Linked DNA regions of Homo sapiens: region 1 is linked to region 2. Evidence: fine-mapped expression QTL. A gene starts in region 2. The other region holds a variant in brackets. All regions are shown on one strand. Distances are from middle to middle. Region 1 holds the start of RSPH6A (radial spoke head 6 homolog A). Region 2 holds the start of SYMPK (symplekin scaffold protein).

Region 1 (14,083 bases), 43 kb before region 2:
GCTCACTGCAGCCTCTGCCTCCCGGTTCAAGTGATTCTCCTGCCTCAGCCTCCCGAGTAGCTGAGATCACAGGCGTGTGCCACCACGCCTGGCTAACTTTTTGTATTTTTAGTAGAGACAGGGTTTTGCCATGTTGGCCAGGCTGGTCTTGAACTCCTGACTTCGAGTTATCTGTCTGCCTCAGCCTCCCAAAGTGCTGGGATCACAGGCATGAGCAAGGCCTTATATGTCTCAGGCCAGGAGCCTTGAAGGTTGTGGTGAGGAGTCTGAGCTTCCCCCTGTGGGCAATGGGGAGCCATAGCAGGTTCTGAGCATTGGAGGGACACGGCCAGCTTTGTGCTTTAATAAGAACCATTACTTCATCAACCTCATTTCTCCCGCTCTCCCTCTTCCTCCCTTGGTTCCAGACACACCAGCCCCTCCTTACTGCTCCTCAAAAACAGCAAGCCTCAGAGCCTTTGCATTTGCAGTGTGCTCTGCCTGGCTCACTCTTCCTCCGGTCATCTGCAAGATGCTCTCCCTCGACTCCTTCAGGGCCCTAATCAAATGTCACCTCCTTGGACAGGCCTTCACTGACCCACACAATTTATTTTTTTGAGATGGAGTCTCGCTCTGTTGCCCAGGCTGGAGTGCAGTGGCACGATCTCGGCTCACTGCAACCTCTGCCGCCCGGGTTCAAGTGATTCTCCTGCCTCAACCTCCCGAGGAGCTGGGATTACAGGCCCATGCTACCATGCCCTGATAATTTTTGTATTTTTTAGTAGAGACAGGGTTTCGCCATGTTGGCAAGGCTGGTCTCGAACTCCTGACCTCAGGTGATCCGCCCGTCTTGGCCTCCTCAAGTGCTGGGATAACAGGCGTGAGCCACCGCACCTGGTTGGACCCCCACTATTTCATGTGTTCCCTAGCCCTCTTAGCCTCCCTTATTTTTCACCTGAGTCCTTAGCTTCAGTTTATCACTTTTTCTGTTTCTTGTCCACTCTCCTAGAATGAGAGCATCCTGGGTATCTAATGGAGGCTGAGAGCAGTGTTTTGTGACTGTAGCTAAGTGGCTTTGGCAAGTATCTTCCTCAGGCAGGGAGGTTTAGTTGCAGGATAAGAGGGTCTCAGGAGGGCTGGGCACGGTGGTTCATGCCTGCAATCCTAGCACTTTGGGAGGCTGAGATGGGCGGATCACTTGAGGTCGAGTTTGAGACTAGCCTGGGCAACATGGTGAAATCTTGCCTCTACTAAAAATACAAAAATTAGCTGGGTGAAGTGGAGCGCGCCTGTAACCCCAACTACTCGGGAGGCTGAAGCAGAAGAATCACTTGAACTTGGGAAGGAGAGGTTGCCCTAAGCCAAGACCACGCCACTGTGCTCCAGCCTGGGTGACAGGGTGAGACTATGTCTGGGGGAAAAAAAAAGCAAGAGGGCTTGGGGAGCCAAATCACGTGTTCTGGAATCCTGACTCTGCCATATCCTAGCTGTGTAGTTTTGGGTAAGCGACCCAACTTCTCTGTGTCTCGGTCTCCTCCTCTGTAAAGTAGGATGAGCTGATGTGCTCATCTCCGGTGAGAATTAGGTGAGTGTGTGCAGTGCCAGCACATGTCTGGGAAGTGAATGCTAGCTGTTGTTGGCATTGATTCCGACTCAGCTGAATTAGAGTCACTGGTTTTCCATGAGGGATGATCCCTTGTCTGACTGACTGAGGCAGGCACTTCGGGTGGGGCCCCTCCCTGCCTGGGTCCCCCACCCGCCCCACTCCTAGCCCCTGCTCACAGGCTGAGGTCGCAATTGATGCTGGTCTGCAGCAGGTAGGCCTTGGCGTTCTGCACGGCCAGCTCCAGAGGCTCGGGCTCAGGCACCTGGGCACTGTAGTGTGGGAAGCCCAGCTCAGAGGGCAAGAACTGAAGGGCAGGGTCATCCCTTATGTAAGGCCCGTGCTGGGCACCTTCAGAGAACTGGTCTGTCTGGTAGAGGTTGAACTGGCCCAAGGGGTTGACTGGGGGCTCCTGGAAGGTGGGGTCCAGTTGCTGGAACAGGCTGCTTTGGCCCTGCTGGAGCCGCTGCAGCATTAGGCTGGTGGTGAGCTCGGCGACCTGCATCCTGCTTTCATCAGAGTAAGGCTGAGGCTGGAACTCTGAGGGAAAGCCCGTGTTCACAGATGGGTACTCCATGCCACCCAGCCGGGCTTCCTCAGCCTGGAAGACCTGGGGCATCAGCAAGTTCTCCTGTTGGGACAGGCTGCCCCTCTGTGACCAACCAGGGGCGTTTCGCTGGGCGTCTGGAGGTATCTGCTGCCTCTCCTCGGGGTCCGCTGCCAGGGCCTGAGCTTGGTCCCGACTGTGCCGCCTCTGGGAGGCCTGAGAAGTCCTCCGGCCCGGAGGCTGCTGGGCAGGGCGCTCAGGGTAGGGCGGCAGGTCTCCCATGGTTCGCCAGGAGGCACAGATCTCTAGGAGAAAGGCTTGCAGACAAGGAGGCCAAGCGAGAGCCACCTGTCGACACCGCCGGTTTCTGAGCACCGAGAGAGGGGGCCGTTACCCGTGGAGGGCGCGGGGAGCGGGCCAGGGTGGGTTCCGCGCAGGCTCTGGGCGCGCACTCCCGATCCCGCGCAGCCCCACGGTGGACGTCGCGCCAGACTCGAGACGGCACCCGCGCCCCAGGCCCGCCATCCCTTTTTTTTTTTCTTTTCAGTAACTTGCCCAAGTTCACATCTTTTATTTCTTTTTAAGGCAAAGCACCCGCAGGTCAAGCCCCGCCCCGTCCCCCAGCCCCGAGTCCCTGTCCCACCCCCTTTCCCCCTCGAGCCCCGTCAGCTGTTCCCCTTGGCCTCGGGTTCCCTGGCGTCCTCGGCAGCCGGGCTGGGAGTCTTCATAGCATCTTCTCCAACAGGTGCGAGGGTCTGGGGGCTCCGCTCCTCCTTCAAGGTCAGCCCGCCCGCTGCCGTCTCCTGGTGACCGGGGAAGGAAAGGGCAGCCGGGTGGAGGGCGCGGTCACCTCCACGCTCCCCTTCAGGCCCTGCCCCCTGATGGCCCCTCCTCCCCCACCTTCACCCCGGCCCAGATCCGGCTTCTTCCTTCGCAGCGGAGGCTGCTCTCCCTACCTTGGGTAGGGGGCCCTCGAGACTAGAGTCCAACAGCGCGGCCTCGGTCAGCCCCGAGTCGTCATCCATGCTGATGAAGATGCCCGGGGTCTCGCACTCAGGCCCCTCCTCCCGGAAATCCATGGCTTCCTCAGACGGGGGCGGGCCTGGCCGGGCCGACGGAGAGGGAGAGGGGGAGGAAGAGGAGGGGGCTCCCACTCCTCCCGGCTTCAGCTTCTGTTCCTCCTCCAGCTGCCGCTTTAAGGCCTTCTCCTGGGCCAGTCGCAGGCCGATGAGGTCCTGAGGGGGCCGGGGTGCTGGGGCCGG[G/C]GCCAAGGTCAGGGGCTCCAGATCATCCTGGGGATAGGGAGGGCCACACAGAAGCTCAGAGGTGGGTGGCTCAGAGGACGGCCGGAAAGAGAAGGAACCACCCTGAGGTGGTCTTTGAGTTCTTCACCAAGAGCATGGGGAGGAAGGGGCAGTTGTCCCCCAGACCCCCAACTCCCAGCAGGAGCATCCCCTGGGAGACGGGTGGCCCAGAGGCAGGGGTGGCCTGAGTCTCTCGGGGTCAGGAGGAGGCCATGGTGAGCCTTGCTGGCTTGGGGTAGGGGGTGGGAGTCTGGGGATCCAGATGGGTGGGCTGCAGGGCCCTCACCTCCTCCAAGGGCCCCGCAGGCGCCTCCTTGGCCTCTGGCTCCTGCTTGCCGCTGGCCTCCAAGATGGTCATGATGGAGTTAGGGATGTGAGCTTGCTGGGTGGAGAGCAGGAAGGGGGCGCTGGGGGCAGCTCTGGCACAGAGACCCCATTTGCACACCTCAGGTCCGGGGGCCCTAACCCTCCAGAACTCCCAGCAGTGCAGGGCCTTCTTGTGTCCGCCTCCATCCAGTCCCCACCAACCAGAGGGACCCAGGGGGCCGCCCACCGCACACCCTGGGTGGGGGGAAAGGGTACCTGGTGGGGGGAAGGGGTACCTGGTGGGGGGTGAAGGAGCGGACATGGGCCAGCAGGGGCTCCCGGAGCTCTGGGCACTTGTCAAAGACGGCTCCCAGCTGCTGGGGCGGCAGCTGCAGGATGACCTGGAAGCTCTGGGGCTTTGTGCGCTGGCAGCACTTGATGAAGCCCTCCCACACCTTGGGGTACTTCCACACCTGAACCAGGGAGGGAGGGAGCCGTCGGGAGAGGCACACAGGCATCCCCCCGAGCCTTGACACTGGGAGAAAGACCTTGCCAAGACCATGCCCAAATCCCACCATCCAAGATTCCTCTGGATGGGCAACAAGCAGCCCCGACCTCCCTCCAGAGGCCTTTGTCTTCCCGATCCAGGCGGCTGGACCACGAGGGCAACTTGGGAAGGGGGTGGAAGAAAACTCAGCCGCCTTTTACCAGAGCTCCCCCTGGGCCAGGCCCAGGCTAAGTGCTGCGGGAGCACCTCTCATGACATTCTCACGGCAGCCTCCAGGGGGCGAAATTACCCCTGCTAAACAGCGGAGGTCCGTGCCGGTGCCGGGACCTGTCCTGGGTCACATGTACATTCTCACCGCAGCCTCCAGGGGGCGACATTAGTCCTGCGGGGTTTGGTTTTTTTGTTCTCTTTTTTTTTTTTTTTTTTTTTTTTTTTTGAGAGATGGTCTTACTCTGCCGCCCAGGCTAGAGTGCAGTGAGTGGCGCGTTTCTTCCTCACTGCAGCCCCAAACTCCTGGGCTCAAGCAGTCCTCCTGTCTCGGCCTCCCAAAGAGTTGGCATTACAGGTGTGAACCATCACACCTGGCCTTATCGTGGTATTTCTAAAGCCCAAATTTCTAGCACCTCTTAAAAAACTGGGCCATTTTTCAGCTCTGGGATGCATCCTGGCCGGGCACACAGCGGTGGAGGGTGAGGAGCAGCCATGCCTCTCCCGGGTGCACACCCCTTGAGGGTTACCACAGCTCCTACCACCCAGCTGCCCTCCCTCATCACCTGGGAGCTGGCCCAGTCATACACCCTGGAGCACTGCTATTTTCTTGGCAGGAGGCAGAGCAGAGCCTGCTGTCCTCCACCGGGCTCCCTCCGGGGTCAGACGGGGGAAGGGGAGGGCAAGCAGGCTAGAAGCTGCTGTCTGCAGCCTGGAGGCGGGGTGGCCGGGGATGGGTTACCTGCTTCATGATGAGGCGGGACAGGATGTTCATGACGAAGCCCCCCAGGCGGGGGTACATGGTCAGGGACTGGATGACGGTCCTCATGAGCAGCATGGGCAGGGGGCTCTGCTCCATCAGCTGCTGCATCACCACGGCCAGCACCTCTGACGTGTACACGTTCCGCTCCGCAAAGCACAGGTTGGTGGCTGCGAGGAGGCGGAGAGTGGGCCTGTCCTCTCTGCCCAGCTGCCCCCTGGGAGGTGGGAGTCCCGGCCTCTGCTGTCTGCCCATGTGAGGGGAAGACTTCTAAAGCCCTGACTTCTAAAGCCCCTGCGGGAGAGAGGAGACTCCCCCGACCCAGCAGAAGGCACACTGCAAGCCCCGCCCTTGGAAAACCTGCAGGCTTGGTTCAAGGGAGAAGACATCCAACTCCAGGAAGCCCCAAAATGGGTGGAACAGGGAACCCGTGGCCCCTCACTTTAAGGACGACCTTGGGAAAGATGTGTTGCCAAGCCCTGGGGGAGTGGCAGGGCCCCCCACCCCTGCTAGGGAGGGAAGGCAGCTATTGGTTTCTACCAGCCCCTCCAGAGAGAACAGCAGTCCACAGACCAGCTTGTCAGAGGGCCAAGGGACTGCCCACCCAGTCCTGACAAGGATACAGGGCTTGCGCTGGTGCTGGGAAGATGGGGGGTGCCAGGCTAAGGGCTGTGTTGGGCATATGGGCACAATCAGAGTAATAGCGAAGGGAGGGACAAGAGAAGGCTGGGGCCGGGGCATACGATGACCCCCCGACTCAACACCCAGTGCCAGTACCAGTAGGACCCAGAGGGTTGGCACAGCACAAGCACCCATGAAGGCAGGCCCTGGGGTCTGTTCCCCGAGTGGGTGGCCATGCCCCAATCCACAGTGCTAATGGGAGGCCCCAGGAGCTGCCTTTGAAGCCCTTCCCCAAACACCACTTGCCATGTGAGTGTCAACCAGGAAGTCTTTATTGAGCCAGAAGAGCACCCCAACCCCCCAAATCCTTGAGAGGCTAATGGAGAACAGGGGTGGGGTCTCTAAGGGGGGGGGCGTAGACAGGTGGGGAGGAGGCTGAATGGGCAGAGCAGACAGTGGAGGTGAGGACCTGCCAGAAACCGAGGAAGCCCCTGCTCCTCGTCAGGGCCAGGTGGTCACTGGTCCTGCCTGCTCAGCCACCCCAAGGCTCCAGAATCACCCCTCCCCTCTTCCTTCCCTGTCGGCTTTGCCCCAGCCCCCCACCTGGGCCTCCCCCGAGCCTCCGATCCATTCTCCATATAGCAGCCTGAAGGGTGTTTTGGAAAGCTCAGACCTGACTTGCCTCCCAGAGACCCTCAAGAAACAAGGTCAAATTCCCACCTCGGCCTGCGAGACTCCTGTGTGGGCAGGCCCCAGGGGCACCTTTCCCAATGGCGACAGCCTGACCTCCTCCCTTGACCAGGCCCCCTCCTTCGTCCCCTAGGTCCAGAACCAGCCAGCAAGCACCTCCCTCGGTCCCTGCAGTCTCCTGCTGCTGCCGCCTACTCATCCTTCCTTGGTCTCAGCCTGAGTGTCCCCTTTTTCGGGAAGTCTTCCCTGATGTCCCACACCCAGGCTGGGTTACATGGCCCCTCTGGGCTGCCCAGTCCCAGGCCACCCCTCTCAGTTGTTACTGGCCAGGGACTTCTTGTCTCTCCCTGGACTGTAAGCCCTGGAAGGACAGGGCTAGGGCTGTCTTTCCTGTGTCCCCAGCACTACCCAGGATGGATATGGGTGAGCAGAGGTGCTGACTTTTCTTAATGCTGGACTACCAGGAGTGGGTCTAGTTATAGACAAGCTCCCCAGAGGAACAGGGTGGTCTACGGGGGAGTGAACAGTGCACAACAAAAGGACTCGACTTTGTGATCTGGAGCTTAGAGTGCAACCAGGAAGACTGCTGGTGCCTGAGCAGGAGAAAAACTTGGGTTGGGTGCTGGGGACACCAGCTGGAGGGTTGTCTGGCCTGCAGCGTGCACGCCTGGGCGTGTTGAAGGGTGGGGTGGTGTAGGGTAGGCCCTGCTGACCCCTCTGGGGGCCTCACTCCTGGTGGCCTGTGTGGCCTCTGGCAAGGCCCTTTCTCCTGGGCCAAGGATCTTCAGGGGCCTGGCTCCTGGTGGCCTGTGTGGCCTCCGACAAGGCCCTTTCTTCTGGACCTAGGATCCTCAGGGCTTCTAATCTGGGTCCACAAATGGCCTTGGGGTGTGTGTGTGTATGTGTGAACCCCCTCAAACTGTATGCAAATAATATGAGCATACTGTCCTGGGAATGGGCTAGAACTTTCCTCAGATCACCAAAGGGGTCGGGGAATGTGAAGACCACAGCCCTGGCCTATGAGCCTGGAGATCTTTCCTCCCTGCTGGTCTCCCACGAGAGGCCTTGGTGCCTCCTGGGTTTTATAATGTGGGTTTGACATTTCCATAAGCTGCTCTCTTGACCTTAAACGTTTCTCAGAGAACTTGCAGAGGAAGGTTAGGAAGTAAGTCACTGAAAAGCTGTTTCAAGCTAGAACACGAAAGTAAGCAGCACAGAGAGGAAGCCCCTTCCCGTCTGAGGGTGAGAAGAGAAATCAAAGGACAGCAGTCTTCTGAGTATAGAGGGCGACAGTGAGGGTGTCCAGCTCCGTGGGACAGGATGGCTCCTGGCCCAGAAACCTTGCTCAGGAGGGATGGAGGGGTGGGCGCTCTCAGGGGAGGTGGTCCTTAGACGCGGAACCGGCAGAGCTGGGATTCCCACCCAGGTCCGTTTCACTTCAGATTCTGTTTCTTCTACCACACCACTTAGCTTCTGCTTGGCCCTGAGTAAGTCACCTAACCTCTCTGGAGCCTCCATTTCCTGTCTACACAATGGAAGTGAACATACCCACCAAGTGGCGGACCAGCAGGCTCAGGCCTGTAGGCGTTCAGGGAGAGCCCAGCGCAGAGTGCTCAGTGAGTGGGGGCCATCGTGAGGCGGCCAGTTCGTCACCAACCCTGCCGCCCTGCAGGCAAGCTCTCCTGCCTCACCTACCCTGGCCCACAAGTGCCCTGGAGCCCTGGGTCTGCCCTGCTGCTGCGCCTCTACCACTCACGGTGTGCCCTGCTTCCTTCTGTTCCTCGGGGCTAGGGGTGGGGCTACCCAACTGCTTTAGGCCCACTCTGTGCCAGGGCACAGCAGGTACATCAGAGGCAGAAAAAGGTGGGTTGTAAAGGGTAAAACCTGGGAGGAAGGAAGGAGGAGGGAGGGAGGGAGGGAGGGAAGAGGAGGCAAGAAAAGGAGGGAGGGAGGGAGGTGGCTCTCCAGAGCTCTGAGGTGGGGCTGTGAGTGACAGTCTTTGACTTGGCAGATTCCAGTGGGGGCATGTGGGTGACTGAGGTCCTGCCCTGGCGTCGCAGGGGCCAGGCCACTGGAGTGGGGGGGAAGCGCCTCACCTTTGATGATGGATTTCATGTCGCACTTCACGGAGTCAATGTTGTGTAATGCGATCAGGAGCTCTCCAGGGTTCAGCGGGGACAAGGCTGAGTTTCCCTCACCTGCAGCAGGCGGGAGGAAGGGTGGGGGAAGACAGTGCGGACGCATAAGTGAAGAGATGGGTCTGAGTTCCCCAGATCGGGGGAGCTGCGAGCAAAGATGAGGTGCCCTCTGCTTTCAGGGCTGGAACAGGGGAAGCGACTGACAACATAAAAAGGGGACACCGAAGGCAGCAGCAGCCCTCAGGCAGCGTGAGGTTGCCACTGTGTGCTCCTCCCCATCCTGGGCTCCCACCCTGGGTAGCGTGTGGCACGGCTGGGTCTCTCTGCCCCTGGGCTGTGCACCCCCGAGGGCAGGGTAGGACCACCTCCTCGTGTGGTCCCCAACACAGACTCCACCGCGGCACAGGGGGTCATGGGCATTTGTGGCACAGGGCAAGATGGAGCCAGGCTACAGGCTTCCAAAAAGTGGCTGGAGCCTTCTGCTGTGTGGGGCCTGGGGGAGTGGAGGGGAGGCTGGTGGAGTGGCTCTTTGCTGCTGCTATTTTGATGGTCCCAGAGCCATCTATATGTGTGTTTTAAACCACCAGGGTCTGCGTGGAACAGACATCCTCCATTTTTTCTCTAGCACCAACCACTGGGGTAAGGGTGAACAATCCCTTGCTAGTTTTTCTAAGTTGAAAGTTTTGCTTCTTTTTTTTTTTTTTTTTTTTTGAGATGGAGTCTCACTCTGTCATCCAGGCTGGAGTGCACTGGCACGATCTCCGCTCACTGCAAGCTCCGCCTCCCGGGTTCATGCCATTCTCCTGCCTCAGCCTCCCGAGTAGCTGGGACTACAGGCGCCCGCCACCACGCCTGGCTAATTTTTTGTATTTTTAGTAGAGACGGGGTTTCACTGTGTTAGCCAGGATGGTCTCGATCTCCTGACCTTGTGATCCGCCCGCCTCGCCTCAAGTTTTGTTTCTTTTTGACTGTGTCAAAACGAAATGCCCCTGGCCCACAGCTTGAGGGATTCGGGCAAGATCTGAGGAGGGGCCAGACTGGAGCCGGGCCTGAGAGGGGCTGGTGTGTGGCCAGATCCTAAAAGGGAAGATGCTGCTGGAGCCTCCGCCCCTAGCTCCACGGTCTTGCCCCTGCTGTGAATGAAACCATCATAAAAATATCCCAGAGGGTGGCCTGGGAGCTCCGGGACACATGGAGATGTCCAGTACAGCTGGTGTCCCAGGGAGCAGGATGTGCCCTCTCTCCCTGAGGGGGGTGCCTGCACCTTGCCTTCTGCCCCAGCACCTGGGGTGGGTGGGCCTCTTGGTGGGGATGAGGCTGCATCACCTACCATGCTGGGTGCCCAGCAGGCGGTTGAAGACTTCCTTCACCACGATGGGGTTGAGTTTGATGAGTTTAGGCAGGGCCTGGATCACCTCTTTCTACAGGGAGAAGGTGGTGGGGGTGGGAGTTGAGTCACATACACCCTCATTTCCCTTCTAGACAAGCCACCCCTTCTGCTCGCCCTGGGGAGCTGAGGGCAAGCTCTGGCTCACTGAGCCCCTCCTACCCTCACCACACCCTCAGGGCGGAGCTTTCTCCCCAGCTCTCACCCCATCTGAGCCCCCTGCATGTCACATGTGTGTGCCCCCAAGAGGCATCCTGATCCTTGTCTGACAGAGGAGAAAAGCGAGTCTCAAAGAGGGGAAGGGACCTGCTTGAGGTAGAGGAGGAAGCAGCAGAGCCATTGGCACCCGGGTGCCCATGCAAATGAGGCCAGGAGCTGCTCCGCATTTCCAGGGTACCCAGGTGTCGGCGGCTTCCATGACTTCTGACCACAGGCAAGGTGCCTTCTGCCCTCTGCTATGTGCCTCTGGCTCAACTGCTGCTGAAGCAACGTGCTGCCCTGCCCCTCCCAGTCCCACATGTCCCAGGTAGCAGGGACAAACAGGCCTCCAGCTCCATACCTTCTCCAGCCCATTGAGCACCGGGATGAGGAAGCGGACGTCTGGCAGTCGCTTGTGGTAGAGATCCCGGACCCGCTTCACCAGCTCTGGGGAGGGTGGGACTGCATGGAAGCAGCAGGAGGCACCAAGTTGGAGGCGGAGGGGAGCGTGGGAAAGGGTGGGCACCCAGGAAAGAGAAGCAGGCAGGTGTGCAGGAAGGGATGGCAACTTCACCCTTGGCTGCTCACGTGCAATTAGCACCACACTGTTCCAAATGGAGAAACTGAGGCCCTAGGACAGGCACAGACCCGCAAGAGGTACGACCATCTGGGGACCCAGCAGCTCAGATCCCCAGGGCCCGGGGAAGGCTAAGGAGAGGGAGGAAAGCCATGAAAGGTGGGGGTCTCCAGGGTCACCTTTGTCTGTGAGGCTGTGCAGACATCTCGTGACCAGTGTCTCTGCTCCCTTGGGACAATTTTCCACCAGCAGGAGCAGCTCCGGGGAGTTCATGCCCATTCCTCGGATCTAGAGGCAGAGACAGGGATGACCAGACCCAGGGTGAGAGCTTAGGGGAGGGTCAGGTGTTGCCCGGCAGGGTGGCTTGCGGGGCATGCTGGCGCCCAGGGTGAGACTGAGGTGACAGGGTTTGGAGGGCGGGGGAAAGGTGGGGAAGGGCAGGAGAGTCAGAAGAACCTTGGCATCTCCCTGCAGCTCCTCCAGACATGGGCCTGCTCCAGCTCCCAGCCCTGGCTGGGCTGTCCTCCTGCGGGCCACTCCTCTGTGGCTCAGACTTGACCTGACCTCGAATGCCCACCCTGTGCTTCGTTCACTGGTGAAGATGTTTCTGGCTCCACCCACCTGCTTCGTGACTCGGTTTCTCAGGCGCAGCTGGCTTGGCTGCGAGCCCAGACCAGGCTCCACCTGCTGCTGCTTCCTGAGCCTGCTCTGCGGTGAATGCCAAACAGGAGCCAGGGCCAGGCTCCACCTCTGCCCAGTAACGTTTACGCTCCTGACTAAAACCGACTGTCTCTGCCCTCGAGAAGCTCACAGCCCTGCCAGATAACTTTTCTGCAAAGTGAGATCACTTTTCCACAGCTGGACCACCTTGAGAATGGGGCTAAAAATCTGTTTCCTCCCAACTACAAGCCTGTTATCCCCATTTTCCAGGTAAGGGCCCCACTGAACCCAAATGGCAGATAGGTGGGGATTAACATACACTTCTCTCTCCCGTTTATCACGAAAATGTTCTGTAATCCAAAAATGTCAGGGGCAGAAAGAAAAAAAGTGGTTTCAAATCCTGCTGCAAACTGGAAGAGCAGACCTTCTAATCTCAGGTGCTAGTCTGTCACTGAGCTGCTTCTCATGTGGGCAGACCTGTGCCTCTAGAGAGAGGGGCAGGAAGGACTTATGTTTATGTAATGACAGCTAAAGAGTCCCGTTAGCAACACTGGGAAGGCCAGCTCATAAAGTGACAGTAACACAGAGGTTTATGTGCCTGAGTTCATGGACTCCTTGCATCAGCGTGGAGGGACTGGAACGTCTTCCCCATTTTTACTGACGGGCCCAAGGTCGCAGTGAGAAAGCGAGAAGTGAACGCGAACCCAGGTCTATCAGCTCCAGGCTCCTAACTGCCGGGCCACTTGACGTTTCCTCAGGAGTGACATGCGGACCGCCTGCAAGCTACACAGCCTGGGTCGGCCCGGGGTGACCACCCTTCGGGCTTGGCACACTCTGAGGTGGAGCAGGTTGGGGAAGAGCTGGAGCTGGGGACACAGCCTTGCCCGTGGGTGGGCAGGGCCTGGTGGGCTCAGGGGCCTCACCGGCTGCTCAATGACCCTCAGCACCGTCCGCTTGATGTCGGCGATGGCTTCAGTGTACACGGCCGCCAGTTCGTGGATCAGCTTGTGGTTCTGAGGCAGGAGGGCCAGGTAGAGGTACAGACACTGCTTCACTGTCTCCTCCGTCCAGGGTGCTGCCACCTCTGACAGGGCAGGAGCGGGCATCAGATTGGCCCACACTCTTCTCCAACCCCCTCGGACCCTCAGGAATGTCCCTTCTTGGGCAGTGGAGCCGGGGAGGGCAGAGAAGGGAGCCGGGGCTGGGGAGCTAATTGTTCTAGGGCAGGGAAATGGCGGGGACCAGGACTTCCCACCTCCAGCCTCCCGTGACTGCCAACACACAAGGCAACTAGAAGGATCTTTCTAAAGTGCGATCCTGACCCTGTCCCTCTCTGGCTCCAATCCCAGCCATGCCTGCCCTGTGGCCTCAGAATAAACCCCCAGCTCCCTGCCTCACACTGTCTGCCAGGTGTTGTATGGGGTGGCCCCGGCCCGCTGCTGCTCTGCTGCCCTCCATGTTGGTCACATACCCATTCTAACAGTCCCGAGGGCCCTGGTCTCTTTGCCTTTGCATCCACCCTCCTCTTTGCCTGGTCCACGGCACCTGCTCAGCTTCTGGGCCTCCCGAAGGCTGTGCATCTCCTGGGAATGCTTCCTGGCACCTGGGCCAGGCCTCCCGTGCTGCCCTATCATGGCCCAAGCCTTCCCATTTAATGGTCCATTTACTCGGGGTCTGAGTCTACCTGTCTGTAATCCAGGGCTCTGCTGAGGGAACCTGCCTGAGATGGCCCTGCCTGGTCCTTCCTCAGGCCCCACCGATGGCTGGCTCTCCTCGTCCTCCAGATCTCTCTCCCTGACCCCCCAGGCTGGGCCAGATGCCCCCTACCCTGACTCCCACAGCCCCCAGGTGGCTGTCCCAGTCCTGCCCATTCCCGTCACTCGTGTCCGAGTGGCTTCCCCACTCATCCCCTCTGCTCGCAGGGCCCAGAGCGCGGACACAGCAGCGCTCAGTATGCATCTGATGACCTGTGCCCAACCTGTGTCCTTGTCAGCTCCAAACAGCACAGACGGTGGGTTGGGGTGCACCAGGAGCTGCAGGTAGTTGAGGGCAAATTTCTCCACATACTCCCGCAGCTGCTCCTTCTCATACATGCGTTTGATGAACAGCAGGGCCTGGGAGCGCACCTGAGGAGGAAGATGGAGAAGGGCAGGGTCAGGGAAGAGGTAAGAGGAAGAACAGCTATTCCTGCGAGCATGGCAACACTCACGTGAAAACAAGCCCGAGGCTGAGAAGGGGCAGCCCAGCTGTTACCAGGGCCCAGGGCTGGTCCCCAGTGCAGGAGGCAGATATCCTGGCCAGGGCCGGACCCGCAGCACCACCTCACTGCCTGCCTCTCCAGCCCATCTGCCCATCACTGCTTCTTGCCTTGCTCACTAAGCTCCAAGCAGAGGGAGAGCTCCTCAGTTCCTTAAAAGTGCCACTCCCTGCCAAGTCTCCCTAGAACGTCTACTGCCAGCTAAACCCTGTTTCACTCAGATATCATCTGCCAGGAGCCGTGAGGGAAGGGTCTGGTCCTGGGCACTCTGACCCCAGCAGCAGCACATGGCCATGGCCAGGGCCAGGGCCAGGGGTGTGAGATGAAGGTCTGCTGAATGAATG
Region 2 (14,911 bases):
AAATAAAGGAAAAAGACTATGGAACTGTAACAAGAAAGGAAGAAAAAAACAAAAAAATGAGAACAATCTCTAGACACTGATAGAGAGTGCATACATTAAGTGAAAACAAGCAAAGCTGAAGACAGTGTTGACTGTATGTTTCTGTTTTACAAAAAAAAAAGAAAAATGAGGCCAGGTGCAGTGGCTCATGCCTGTACTCCCAACACTTTGGGAGGCTGAGGCAGGCAGATCGCTTGAGCCTAGGAGTCGGAGAGCAGCCTGGGCAACATGGTGTAACCCTATCTCTACAGAAAATATAAAAATTAGCTGGGCATGGTGGCGTGCCTGGTAGTCCCAGCTACTCAGGGAGGTGAAGGCAGAGGCTGTAGTGAGCCAAGATCGGGCCACTGCCCTCCAGCCTGGGCAGCAGAGTGAGAACTTGACTCAAAAAAAAGAAAGGGGAAAAAATATATATGTTAAAAAAGGAAAAAAATCTGAAAGGATAAACCAAAAACCAGCAGAGGAAACAGGGTAAAAAAAATTGGTGAAGCCGGGCGCGGTGGCTCACGCCTGTAATCCCAACACTTTGGGAGGCCGAAACGGGTGGATCGTCTGAGGTTAGGAGTTTGAGACCAGCCTGGCCAACATGGTGAAACCCCATCTCTAGTAAAAATACAACAGTTAGCTGAGCCTATAATCCCAGCTACTCAGGAGGCTGAGGCAGAAGAATCGCTTGAACCCAGGAGGCGGAGGTTGCAGTGAGCCGAGATCATGCCACTGCACTCCAGTCTGGGACATAAAGACAGACTCCATCTCAAAAAAAAAAGGTGAATCTCAGTATATTATCCTGAAAAGAGGTCCCTGACAGCCTGTTGCATCAGAGGACAATACATGCAGTTCAAGCCATTTTTGTCAAGTATGTGTTTATGTATACGCAGAATGACCTGAGGCAAGACATTTAACTTCTCTGGCTCTCAGTTTCCTCTTCTAGGAAACAGGGATAGTAACAGGGCTTACCTCCCAAGACTATTTTGAGGATTAAATGAGTTAGTATATACAGTAAACATTGGCTAAGTATACTATTATTTTTATGTACATGGGAAAAGATCTGAAGGCTACTGCATAAACTGCTAACAACAATTATGATAATTAATAATAATTTGGCCAGCTCACGCCTGTAATCCCAGGATTTTGGGAGGCTAAGGTGGGAGGATCAATTGAGCTCAGGAGGTGGAGGATGCAGTGAGCTGTGATCCCTACCACTGCATTCCAGCCTGCGGACAGAGCAACACCCTGTCTCAGAAACAAACAGGCCAGGTGCAGTGGCTCACATCTGTAATCCCAGCACCTTGGGAGGCTGAGGTAGGCAGAACACCTGAGGTCAGGAGTTCGAGACCAGACTGGCCAACATGGAGAAACACTGTTCCCTACTAAAAACATACAAATTAGACAGGCATGGTGGCGCATACCTATAATCCCACCTACTTGGGAGGCTGAGGTGGGAGAATCACTTGAACCTGGGAGGCAGAGGCTGCAGTGAGCTGAGATCACGCCACTGCACTCCAGCCTGGACGAGAATGAGACTGTCTTAAAAACAAAACAAGGCTGGGTGCGGTGGCTCACACGTGTAATCCCAGCACTTTGGGAGGCCAAGGCGGACGGATCACGGAGGTCAGGAGATCGAGACCATCCTGGCTAACAAGGTGAAACCCCGTCTCTTCTAAAAATACAAAAAAATATGCCGGGCATGGTGGCGGGCGCCTGTATTCCCAGCTACTCGGGAGGCTGAGGCAGGAGAATGGCATGAACCCGGGAAGCGGAACTTGCAGTGAGCTGAGATCACAACACTGTACTCGAGCCTGGGCGACAGAGTGAGACTCTGTCTCAAAAAAAAAAAAAAAAAAAAAAAAACACACACTAAACAAACAAACATGCCAAAAAAACAATAATCTGAGGACGGTGAAAATGATACTTTTTTCTTTTTTTGAGATGGAGTCTTGCACTGTCGCCCAGGCTGGAGTGCAGTGGCGTGATCGTGGCTCACTGCAAGCTCCGCCTCCTGGGTTCACACCATTCTCCTGCCTCAGCCTCCCCAGTAGCTGGGACTACAGGCGCCTGCCACCACGCCCGGCTAATTTTTTGTATTTTTAGTAGAGACGGGGTTTCACCATGTTAGCCAGGATGGTCTCGATCTCCTGACCTCGTGATCCGCCCGCCTTGGCCTCCCAAAGTGCTGGGATTACAGGCGTGAGCCACCGCAACCAGCCGAAAATACTTTTTTTTTTTTTTTTTTAGATGGAATTTCACTCTTGTTTCCCAGGCTGGAGTGTAATGGCACAATCTCAGCTCACCGCAACCTCCACCCTCCCAGGTTCAAGCAATTCTCCTGCCTCATCTCCCAAGTAGCTGGGATTACAGGTATGTGCCACCACATCCAGCTAATTTTTGTATTTTTAGTAGAGACGAAGTTTTACCATGTTGGTCAGGCTGGTCTCGAACTCCTGACCTCAGGTGATCTGCCCACCTTGGCCTCCCAAATTGCTGGGATTACAGGTGTGAGCCACAGCGCCCAGCCGAAAATGACACGTTTTTTAAAAGGAACTACCCAATAGCTATTCACAGTAGTATCACATGATAGGGGTCTCCTCAATGAATGACGAGCCACAGCCTCCTCCCTAGTTTCCCTGCTGCCTGTCACCCCCTATCTTGCTCAGGGTCAGGGCCAATGTCCCCATCAAGGCCTACAAGATTTTATGGCATCTGGCCTGTTCTTCCTCTGACTGCCTCTCCCCCTGGGCTCTTTGCTCCACCCACTCTGGCCTCCTCGCTGTCCTGTGAACATGCCCAACATGCCCCTTCCTCAAAGACTTTGTGCCTCTCTTCCGTCTGCCTGGAATATTCCTCCTCCTAGATATCAGCACAACTCCTTCCCTCTTCATTTCCTTCAGGTCTCCACTCACATGTCTCTGCAGTAAGGTCTTCCCTGACGACTATGTTTCTTTTTTTTTTGAGACGGAGTTTCCCTCTTATTGCCCAGGCTGGAGTGCAATGGCGTGATCTCAGCTCACAGCAACCTCTGCCTCCCAAGTTCAAGCGATTCTCCTGCCTCAGCCTCCCTAGTAGCTGGGATTACAGGCATGTGCCACCACGCCTGGCTAATTTTGTATTTTTAGTAGAGACGGGGTTTCTCCATGTTGGTCAGGCTGATCTCGAACTCCCGACCTCAGGTGATTCGCCCGCCTTGGCCTCCCAAAGTGCTGGGATTACAGGCATGAGCCACCGCGCCCGGCCGACGACCATATTTCAAATTTTAACTTCCTCTCGATCCCCATCTGTGTTGCTTTTTCTCCATAGCATTTATCATCATCACACACTACATATTTATAAGTTCCACGAGGACAGTGATTTATTTATTTGAAATCATTTTTTGGTAGAAGCAGAGTTTCGCCATGTTGCCCAGGCTGGTCTTGAACTCCTGCACTCAAGCAATCCACCCTCCTTGGCCTCCCAAAGTGCTTGGGATCACAAGTCTCAGCCATCGCCCCCGGCCTAGAACAGGGATTTTGTTCCTTCACTTTTTATATTCCCAGCACGGAAGAGTGCTTGGCACCTAGCAGGAGCTCAATAAACATCTGCTGAATGAGTGAACACTACTGCCAAACGGCCTCCCCAATCACTGGGTTCAGTATTCCTGCCCTTTCACTCTTGAATCCTAATAGCTATACTTGTTCTACTTTTTCCCCCTTTCTCACTACTGCACTTGACAAGTCTTTAAAAAAAAAAAAAAAAAAGGGCATGGTGTGGTGGCTCACTCCTGTAATCCCAGCACTTTGGGAGGCCAAAGTGGACAGATCACTTGAGGCCAGGAGTTCAAGACCAGCCTGGCCAACATGGCAAAACCCAGTCTCTGCTAAAAATACAAAAAAATTACTTGGGCATGGAGATGGATGCCTGTAATCCCAGCTACTTGGGAGGCTGAGGCATGAGAATTACCTGAGCCTGGGAGGCAGACGTTGCAGCGAGCCGAGATTGCGCCACTGCACTCCAGCCTGGATGACAGAGCAAGACTCTGTCTCAAAAATAAAACAAAACAAAAACAAAGAAAGGAAAGAAAACAAAAATAGGACGGGTATAGTGGCTCACAATTGTAAACCCAGCATTTTGGTAGGTCTAGGTGGGAGGATGGCTTGAGGCCAGGAGTTCAGGACTAGCCTAGGCCTAAAAACTAAAAAAGAAGGCCAGGTGCAGGGGTTCATGCCTATAATCCCAACATTTTGGGAGGCTGAAGCAGGAAGAGTACTTGAGGCCAGGAGTTTGAAACCAGCCTGGGCAACACAGCGACACACCATCTCTAGACATATGCACAATTAGCTGGGCATCGATATCATGCCACTGCTCTCCAGCCTGGGAGACACGGTAAGACTCCATCTAAAAAAAAAAAAAAAAAAAAAAAAAAATTAGCCAGGCATGGTGCCATGAACCTTTAGTCCCAGCTACTCTGGAGGCTAAGGTGGGAGGATTGTTTGAGCCTGGTTGTAGTGAAGTATGATTGGGCCACCGTAGTCCAACCTGGGCAACAGAGCATGAACCTGATGAACCTGTTTCCAAAAAAAAAAAAGAAAAAATAATCAGTTAATATATATTGAACACGGCCGGGCACGGTGGCTCAAGCCTATAATGCCAGCACTTTGGGAGGCCAAGGCGGGTGGATCACCCGAGGTTAGCAGTTTGAGACCAGTCTGGCCAACATGGTGAAACCTCATCTCTACTAAAAATACAAAAAAATTAGCCAGGCATGGTGGCAGGCACATGTAATCCTAGCTACTCGGGAGGCTGAGGCAGGAGAATCGCTTGAATTTGGGAGGAGGAGGTTGCAGTGAGCCGAGGTCACATCATTGCACTCCAGCGTGGGCAACAAGAGTGAAACTGCGTTTCAAATTAAAAAAAAAAAGAAAAAAAACCCACACACACAGAGAGAGAAAGAGAAAGAGAGAGAGAGAACACTTAATATGTGCTAAGCACAATTCTAAGATATACATATTAACTCATTTAAACCTCAGACACCAAGGTTTAAATGAATTAATATGTATATATTAGAATTAATATACATGAGTTAGGTTTACATTTTTTGTTTTTTTGAGACAGGGTGTCACTCTGTTGCCCAAGCTGGAGTGCAGTGCCGCAATCTCAGCTCACCGCAATCTCTGCCTCCCGGGCTCAGGCGATCCTCCTACCTCATTTTCCCAAGTAGCTGAGACTACAGGCGAATCCCCATTTAATTTTTGTACTTTCTGTAGAGAAGGGTTTCGCCATGTTGCCCAGGCTGGGAGTTAGTATTTTTAATTTTCATTTTACAGATGAGGAAACTGAAGACCAGGGAGGTAAAGTGACCTGACCAAAGGCATATAGCTTGTAAGAGGCAGAGTCAGCAGCATGGCTGCATATCTTCCTTACCACTATGCTACAGTACTGTTTATCTGAAAGGAATTGTTTTTTACCCCCAGGTCTGTTTACGTAAGCCAAGGATCCTGGCCACCAGACAACCGGCATGGCATGCCGTCCCCAGTCAAAACATAAAAAAAACAGGCCGGGCATGGTGGCTCACACCTGTAATCCCAACACCACTGCACTCCAGCCTGGGCGACAGAATGAGACTCTGCCTCAAAAAATAAAATAAAATAAAATAAAACCCCATAATAAACATTTCCACTTTTTTCATGATAATACATTCAGATCAACCAAAATATTTTACCCTGTTTCATTCTTCTTCTGCTTTTTGGTTTATGCTTTCAGTTTTGTTTTGTTCTTTTTTAAACACACATACACAAAATTCTCCTGCAGGAGCTAGATTTTATGCAAAAAAAGGAAAAAAAATGAAAATAAAAAAACCCATATATACATATTTCCCTTTCATTTACAAAAAGAGCATACACAGGGCCGGGAGCGGTGACTCACGCCTGTAATCCCAGCACTTCGGGAGGCGGAGGCAGGTGGATCACGAGGTCAGGAGTTCAAGACCAGCCTGACCAACATGGTGAAACCCCATCTCTACTAAAAATACAAAAATTAGCCAGGCGTGGTGGTGTGCCTGTAATCCCAGCTACCTGGGAGGCTGAGGCAGGCGAATTGCTTGAACCTGGAAGGCAGAGGTTGCAGTGAGCCGAGATCACGCCACTGCACTCCAGCCTGGGTGACAGAGTGAGACTCTGTCTCAAAAAAAAAAAAAAGGAGCCTACACAGGCCGAGTTTGGTGGCTCAGGCCTGTAATCCCTGCACTTTGGAAGGCTGAGGTGGGCAGATCACTTGAGGTCAGGAGTTCAAGACCAGCCTGGCCAACACAGAGAAACCCCGTCTCTACTAAAAATATAAAAATTACCTGGGTGTGGTGGGGCACGTTTGTAATCCCAGCTACTCGAGAGGCTGGGGTGGGAGAATCACTTGAACCAGGGAGGTGGAGGTTGCAGTGAACTGGGATCGTGCCAGCCTGGGCGACAGAGTGAGACCCTGTCTCAAAAAAAAAAAAAAAGAAAAAGCATATACAATAAACACCAACCTCCACTTCACTTGTTTTCCCTTAATATATGTTGGAGGCCACTATATCAGTGTATAGAGATTTTCATCATTTCCTTTTATCTACCTCATTCCTTTTTAGAGTTGCATAGTATTTTTTATGTGGATGTATTATAGTTTCTTTCAGCCAATCTTCTTATTTAAGAACATTTGGGATGCGTGTAGCCTTTTGCTATGATGAACAGTATCACTGTTTCCCCTTCCCTCTCGATGTACTCGTTAAGAAGTGGTACCCTGCCCCACTGCTACCTAGGAATCTGATGACTACCCTGTTTCCCCAAACTGGCTCTAGGAGTATCTTTTATTCCTTCAACGAACATTAGCTGGGCGTCTCCGGCGTGATTGGCGCTGTGCTGAGAACACAGTGGCGACAGAGACAAACCTAGTCCCTACCTTCATGGAACACACGGTCATAGACATCATAAAACAGCACACAGATAAGAGTCGGATAACAAATTAGACCACACGTGACATGAAGGAACACGGACCGACAAAAGCATTTAACAGGCGGATTTCTGGATGGAGGGCAGGGAAGGAGGGCTTCGCAGAGGAAGTGACGTTGGTGCCGAGACCCGAAGGATGAAATGGGAGTTAGCCAAGCCGAATGGGTAAAAGGATGTTGCAGGCAGAAGGGACAGCCTGTGCAAAATCCCCGAAGCGGGAAAGCGCATGGCAAGTTTAAGGAACCGAAAGGCCAGGGCGGCTGTTAGAGGTGGGGGAAAAAGCAAAGAGGCCGAGTCGAAGCAAGCGAGGTCTGCGGGGCGGTGGCGCCCGGGGGGCCACGTTGGAACTTTGCCTCGAGGGCACTAGGGAGCCAAGGAAGGGTCCTGAGCAAGGGAAGAAACATGGGTCGCGAAAGCCACTGTTCCCCTCTCCCCACGGCGATGCCCTCCCCGCCCGAGCCCCTGCTTCTTTAGGAGCCTCCTCCTTTCGTCTCCGGGCCCAAACGCCGCCTCCCGCTCACCGCAGCTCTGGCCTCCGTTCCCCTCGCGCCCCCTCAGCAGTGCCTCTTCCTACACTCCGCCGCCGCCGCCGCCGCCATCTTCCGTTCGTCGCCGGGAACGGTGCGCACGCGCCACACACCCAGGGCCGCCGGGAAATGGAGTCCAGAGCACAGCCCGACCCCGCCCATGCCTCGTCCCGTGCGAGCGGCATTCTGCCCGCCTCCATACTACGGCGAGCAGACCCTTCATTTCCGGCTCTGGGTCCGGCTAGGCCTTCTGGGAAATGTAGTCCCTTCGGAGGCACCGGGCGGAAAGGGAGCTAGAGCATTCTGGGAAATGGAGTTCTCAGTGGTGCTGAGTCCCTGGACGGCTGGCTGGTCTTGGAGAGTGCGGAGTTCGGGCAGCGAAGCTCCTGGGTCTTGGAGGGGAGGTGGTCTGTTGCCCTAGTGGGGTCTGCGGAGAGGCCCCGATCCCCTCCATCTTTGTTCTTGACCCTTTCAACAGTCTGAAGCATTTCTTTTTCTTTTCTTTTCTTTCTTTCTTTTTTTTTGGAAACGGAGTCCCGCTCTCTCTCCCAGGCTGGACTGCAGTGGCGCGATCTCGGCTCACTGCAACCTCCGCTTCCTAGGTTCAAACGATTCTCCTGCCTCAGCCTCCCGAATAGCTGGGATAACAGGCACGCACCATCACGCCTAGCTAGTTGTTGTATTTTTAATAGAGATGGGGTTTCACCCTGTTGGCCAGGCTGGTCTCAAACTCCTGACCTCAAGTGATTCGTCCGCCCGCCTCGGCCTCCTGCAGTGCTGGAATTACAGGCGTGAGCCACCGCGCCCGGCCAAGTTAAGCATTTCTAGCCGTCGGAAGCCTCAGTCTTCCTGTCTGTCCAATGGGGATGTGATTTCGGGGACCTTTTACGGGTCCTTGTAGTCGCATAGTGGCCCTAGCGTTCTGATTCCCCTTTCTTCCGCCACGGTCATGCAGGGCTCTGGCTCTTCGTCCTCTCCTGCCGAGATGATGAAGCCCCCTGAGGTAGAAAGGCTCCAGAGTTCTGACCTCGGGGCCCTTGGTATCTGCAGCGTCGCTGCGGGCAGCTCCCTCACTCCTGAATCACCCCCAGCTGTCGCGTCCTGGGGCTGCGGCCCCCGGCGCCTGAGGTCTGTCTCCTGGCGATCCCGCAGGGGGCGCCCCAGTCCGAGCGCGCCGCCCTCGGGGAGGCGGGAGGGGAGCCCGGGGCGGGCGAGGGCGGGGGTGTCCCGGCTATAAAGCGTGGCCGCCTCCCGCGGCGCTCGGGACAGCCGTACCCCGGGCGGTCGGACGGGCGGGCGCCGGTGGGAGCTCGGGCCGTGCCCGCTGAGAGATCCAGAGCGCTCCGTTCCCCCGGGGCCGGAGCGGGGGCGGGTGGGGGCGTAAGCCCGGGGGATGCTGGGCTCAGTGAAGATGGAGGCCCATGACCTGGCCGAGTGGAGCTACTACCCGGAGGCGGGCGAGGTGTGTCCTCGGGGATGGCGGAGCGGGAAGTTGGGGGCAGGTATCGGGGTGTGGGCTCACATGGAGCAGGGACTGGTTGTGGGTTCAAATGGAGGCAAAGGCGTCTACTTGGGCAGCTGAGGAACTGGGAACACGGAGACCAGGTGTGGAAGTCGGGGACCGGGGACGAGGCATGGATGGGAGCGCTGTTTGGGCAGCCTCGCCGCGGCCAGGGCTTAAAAATGGAAGTCAGGAAAATTTAGCCAAGGGTCGGGTCACACCTTAAACTTGGGAGCCGGGTGTTGGAGCCCCAAAAAGCAAGGGATTTATATGTACAAACCAAAGATAGGAATCAGAGTTCCAGGGTAGGGGACAGACTAGGGGGTTTCAGGATGTGAGGTTCAAAGTTGGAGGGAAAGAAAGACTAAAAGATGGAGGAGGAGTCACCATTAAGGGGAAGACTGAGGTGGGAGCTCAGGGCCAGCACACAGTGTTAAAGAACCGGGGTTCGGGGCTAAGGATCAGCTGGTAATCTAAGGTAGGGTCAGACATAGGGATTGGTGCTCAGGGGTCAGAGATGGGGGTGCTCAGAGATGAAGCTTCGTTTTTGGAGTCTGAAATAACAGGTGGCTTAGAGTTGGGCATCTGGGAGCAGAAGATGTAGCCATCAGCATTGGCAGGAGAGGGGCCGATCTCCACCCCCCCATCCCTACCCATGACCCTCCGCAGGGACTCCCCAAGTCGGAAGATGGAGAGTTTTAGATTGTGCACCTTCCCCTGCTCCCCGCCAGTCCAGCAACCTCCAGCTATTGCTAAAATTCCCATCCAGTCTCACCTCAGACAAGGCTTCCCTGGAGTGGGGGGTGGCGGCATATTCTAATCCCCTCACCTGGACAGACAGAAAGTCCTTCCTCAAGTCTGACCCCCATTCGTCTTGCTGCAACGACCCCTACACCTTAGCTACCTCACTCTGTAATCAACGTTGTGAGGTTGTTGGGGCTGGGGGTTGGGTTCTTGGTCTGAGAATTATGGGGGTCTGGACACTTGGACTTCTAACCTGGAAGGGGACTGTGGGCTTGAGGTGGGGTGTGGGGCAGGAATGGCTAGGTTCTCCAAGGAGTCAAGATCTGGTGACTGCGGGGGCCCCAGTGTGCCTGAGTCTTGGGTCTGGGGCTCGAAACTGTAGGGTGGGACTCCTGGATCCCCAGGCCTTCAGGGCTGGGCAAGGTGCCTGGGAAGGGCCAGTCCTGGGTTTGGGGAGGTGTGAGGTGCACGTGGGGTGGGGCAGGGCCAACAGGGAAAGGGACTGGGAGTGTTGAGAGGTGGAGGCAGGGTGGCTGGAGGTATCAGTTGTGAGATGCGGAAGGCAGAGACCCAGGTGGGAAATGGAGGGTTCCAGGTAGTGGGGGTGATCCCAGCTGGACCTCTGCAGAACTCAGTCTGGGGACCTGATTTAAGGGAACCACCTACAGACCAATTGTACAAACCAACTACAGTTGTTTTGGGGGCACATCTTAAGTAAATGATGGGGGTCTAGGCAGGAGGAGTTGATATTTGGGGCACAGTCTGAATAGATCCAAGTTTAGGGGACAATTTGTATGGAAATTGTGTCAGAAATTGAAGGAAAGCCGGCACAGTGGCTCACACTTGTAATCCCAGCACTTTGGGAGGTCGAAGTGGGAGGATCTCTTGAGCCCAGGAGTTTGAGGCCAGCCTGGGCAACATAGGGAGACCTTGTCTTTAAAAAAAAAATTTTTTTTTAATTAGTCAGGCATGCCTGTAGTCTAAGCTACTTGGTTGGGAGGCTGAGGTGGGAGGATCACTTGAGGCTGGGAGTTCGAGCTGCCGGGAGCTGTGATCGTATCACGGCACTCCAGCCTGGGTGACAGAATGAGACCCTATCTCAAAAAATAATAATAGTAGAGGGACAGTCTGGAGGTAATCAGCATTTCAGGGCATATTTTGGGAGAGTCAGTATTTGGAGGAATGGAAATGGTTGGGTGATACTGTCTGAGGCTCTCCCCAGCCTTCCCATCAGATAAGCCCACCTCTTCCCCTTGGGTCAGAACAATGGGGAGAGAAATACCTACACTCAGCCAGCAACTGAGAGCTGAGAGGGTCCCCAAACCACTTCTTGCCCATAGCACCCTCCCGCTTGGGGTGACGTTAACACTCAGGGCAGCTTGCTGTCTGGAAAGAACTTGGAAAGTTACCATCCTGGGATATCCCTGTTGGCCTCAGGTTCTTGCAGATCAGCTGGTCCAGCTGCTCCCCTGTTTTAGAGGTGGTTAACTCTGAAGCCCCGCACGCAGAACACTGGGGTCCTGGGTTGGGTCTGGGACTAGAAACTTGGCTTCTGGCTTCACACTGCCTTCCTCTGCTCCCTGTCACACCCTTCTCCAGAGACAATAAGGAAATGAAAGAGGAGAAATTCCAGTCTCCTGGTGTGGGGGTGCGGGTCCCCCAAGGGCTTCCCCCCAATCTCAGCCCCACCCTGTCAGGGGAGATCCGGCTCAGACCCGGACACCAGGGGTTCATCCCAGCCCCGGGGCGTGGGAAAGCCTAGGGTGGATTAGGGCAGCTGGAGTGCTTGAGGTCGGACCTCAAGGAGGACTTCCGGGTGGGTGGGGAGCCAGAAAGGAGGGCCCTGGGGTCCCTGTCTGTCTTACTCTGCAATACCAGAGAGCCTGACTGGGTTGCAGAAATGGGGGGTGGAGGTATAGGGGGATTTGGAAACTCTGTGGACCCCTCTAATCCATCACCTTCTCACCTCATCCCTTTTCTTTTTCTGGGGAGGGGACCCGAAGCCACCAACCAGCGGGAGAGCCTGCATGGGGGAAGGGAGTAACTGTGGCTGCAATTTCACTGTAAGACTTGGGGTGAGGGGGAATGGATTTGTTGAAGGGAGGGAGATAGATAGATAGATAGATAGATAGATAGATAGATAGATAGATGCATGGATGGATGGATAGATAGATTGATAGGAAGATGGTGGCTCGTCATGGTAGCTCATGACTGTAATCCCAGCACTTTGGGAGGCCGAAGAGGGTGGATCACTTGAGGTCAGGAGTTCAAGACCAGGCTGGCCAACATGGTGAAACCCCATCTCTACTAAAAATACAAAACTTAGCTGGGCATGGTGGTGCATGCCTATAATCCCAGTTACTTGGGAGGCTGAGACAGGAGAATTGCTTGAACCCAGGAGGCGGAGGTTGCAGTGAGCCGAGATGGAGCCACTGCACTCCAGCCTGGGTGACAGAGTGAGACTCTATCTCAAAAAAAAAAAAAAAAAAAGACAAGAAGATGGGCTGAAGGAGGAAGAAAGGTGGGAGTTGGGGTTGGGAGGGGAGTGGGGTAGAGTCGGATAGTGAGAGAGAGTGCCCAGGAAGGGAGAAAGAGATGGAAGGATGGAGAGAGAGACAGGGGCCGAGATGGAGGGGAAAGAAAGATGGGAGAGGACTCGGGAGGGGTCGAGGGTGGGCAGGAAGAGCAAAAGAGGTTAGGGTGGAGACAGAAGGGAAAACAATGCGGGGGTGGGGAGGGAGATGGGAGAGGGGAATATGGGTACTAGTACTGAGACGGGTAACACAACGGCAAAAATAGCCAACAGAGATTCAAAGAGACATGATGAAAGAGTTCCTTGGAGAGACATGAAAAGGAAAGAGCAGAGGATTTCTCGACTGGAACTCAGACTTAGGGTTGAGTTGGTTGCCTCCACTCTCTGATTCCCTAAGCCACCCTGGCCAGACTCGTTTCTCCGGACCTTGTGACCTGCAGAAGCTTACAGTGGTAGGGCCAGACATGGTGGCTCATGGCTATAATCCCAACACTTTGGGAGGCCGAGGCAGGAGGATCACCTGAGGTCAGGAGTTCGAGACTAGCCTGACCAACATGGTGAAACCCTGTCTTTACTAAAAATACAAAAACTAGCTGAGTGTTGTGGTGCGTGCCCGTAATCCCAGCTGCTCGGGAGGCTGAGGCAGGAGAATCGCTTGAACCTGGGAGGCAGAAGTTGCAGTGAGCTGAGATTGCACCACTGCACTCCAGCCTGGGCGATACAGTGAGACTCTCTTAAAAAAAAAAAAAAAAAAAAGCTTACAGTGGCAGGAGACTAGGCGGTATCCAGTTAACTCACATTTGGTGGCTCTAGCCAGTGCTGTATATAGCAGCATTCCCCCACCCACGCAGTGCCATGAGACCCCAGGCCTCGGAGGAGGCAGTGGGGAAAGGTCCAGGTGGAGAATGGGGCAGAGAGGATGGGAGACAGTGGTTGAGAAGGGATAAGTAGATACAAAGAAAGAAACAACCTTCCAGCATGCCTATGTTTTCCTGGCGTGTTCTGTTCACTGTTGTGTTCCTGCTAGACTGTTGGCACCACGAGGGCAGGCATTTCTGTCTGTCTTAGTCACTGCTTTTATTTTATTTTATGATTATTATTTTTTGAGATGGAGTCTTGCTCTGTTGCCCAGGCTGGAGGCAGTGGCACGATCTTGGCTCACCACAACCTCTGCCTCCTGGGTTCAAGCAATTCTCCTGCCTCAGCCTCCCTAGTAGCTGGGATTGCAGGCATGTGCCACCATGCCCGGCTAATTTTGTATTTTTAGTGGAGACGGGGTTTCTCCCTGTTGGTCAGGCTGGTCTCGAACTCCCGACCTCAAGCGATCCGCACCCCCACCCCCCCCACCTCAGCCTCCCAAAGTGCTGGGATTACAGGCGTGAGCCACCGCAACTGGCCTAGTCACTGCGTTTATAGCGTGACCCGGAACAGGTCTGGAGCCAGACTGCCTGGTTGCAGAATCCCAGTTCTGCCCCCATTCTTGCTGTGTGACCCCAGCAACCTCTCTGGGCCTCAGCTAGCTCAGCTGTAAAATGGGCATCATCATAACACCTCCTCCCATAGTATGGTTGTCAAGATTAAAGGAGACCATTCTTGTGAAGTGCTTGGAGCAGCTAACTGATAAATATTGGTTGAATGAATGAAAGAATATACAGAGGGTTACTTAGGAGGCACTGCAAGATCTACCGTGTTCCATTGACCTAGGATGCACCTTTTCCCCCCATTTGAACATTTCCAAAAATGGGATGCATTTTACAGTCAACAGTGTCCTATGATTTTAACTGAGTGTTTTTCCCATTTGTATTAATATATAAAGTAATGCTGCAGCTTCCAGAGAAGTCTTAGATTTGAAGATATATAGTAAATGGATAATATTATTAGGTTGAAAAGTGATTTCTGATATTCAAACACTTTTATGTATAAATACAGTAATTTATTTTTATTTATTTATTTTTTTTTTTTGAGACAGAGTCTTGCTCTGTCGCCCAGGCTGGAGGGCAGTGGTGCAATCTCGGCTCACTGCAACCTCCACCTTCTGGGTGCAAGCAATTCTCCTGCCTCAGCCTCCTGAATAGCTGGGACTACAGGCGCCCGCCACCATACCTGGCTATTTTTTGTGTTTTTAGTAGAGACAGGGTTTTGCCATGTTGGCCAGGCTGGTCTCGAACTCCTGACCTCAAGTGATCCACCTGCCTCGGCCTCCCAAAGTGCTGGGATTACAGGTGTGAGCCACTGTGCCCAGCCTAAATGCAGTAATTTTATAAGCTAAAAGATTGAAGAGAGCTACACATATATGTTAGATATGTTAGATTATTACAGAGTTATAATAACTTTTTTTTTTTTTTTTTGAGACAGAATCTCACTGTCGCCCAGGCTGGAGTGCAGTGGCATGATCTCAGCTCACTGCAAGCTCCACCTTCCGGGTTCACGCCATTCTCCTGCCTCAGCCTCCCAAGTAGCTGGGACTACAGGCGTTCGCCACCACACCCGGCTAATTTTGTTTTTGTATTTTTAGTAGAGACAGGGTTTCACCGTGTTAGCCAAGATGGTCTCGATCTCCTGACCTTGTGATCCACCTGCCTCGGCCTCCCAAAGTGCTGGGATTACAGGTGTG

The links. PIP is the estimated chance that this variant, and not a neighbour inherited with it, causes the effect.
Region 1: its variant is fine-mapped to the expression of SYMPK in whole blood (TOPMed, PIP above 0.99). The same link has a PIP of 0.9 or more in T cells and lung.

Annotation. Positions count from the first base shown.
Region 1 is chr19:45,812,766-45,826,848 of GRCh38, forward strand. It overlaps RSPH6A (radial spoke head 6 homolog A), which reads right to left and starts at 2,543. Exons shown (of 6, transcript NM_030785.4): 1 at 1,762-2,543. The coding sequence starts at 2,411. SYMPK (symplekin scaffold protein) reads right to left here. Exons shown (of 27, transcript NM_004819.3): 17 at 13,461-13,608; 18 at 12,406-12,566; 19 at 11,002-11,110; 20 at 10,607-10,707; 21 at 9,991-10,081; 22 at 8,619-8,720; 23 at 5,194-5,381; 24 at 4,033-4,209; 25 at 3,717-3,812; 26 at 3,086-3,418; 27 at 2,645-2,932. The coding sequence ends at 2,795. RefSeq lists enhancers at 4,217-4,286, 13,938-14,083 and a silencer at 4,447-4,536. The variant G/C (reference allele first, on the strand shown) is at 3,392.
Region 2 is chr19:45,855,545-45,870,455 of GRCh38, forward strand. It overlaps SYMPK (symplekin scaffold protein), which reads right to left and starts at 7,603. Exons shown (of 27, transcript NM_004819.3): 1 at 7,514-7,603. FOXA3 (forkhead box A3) reads left to right here and starts at 8,782. Exons shown (of 2, transcript NM_004497.3): 1 at 8,782-8,981. The coding sequence starts at 8,913. RefSeq lists enhancers at 6,628-7,266, 7,518-7,927 and a silencer at 8,568-8,977.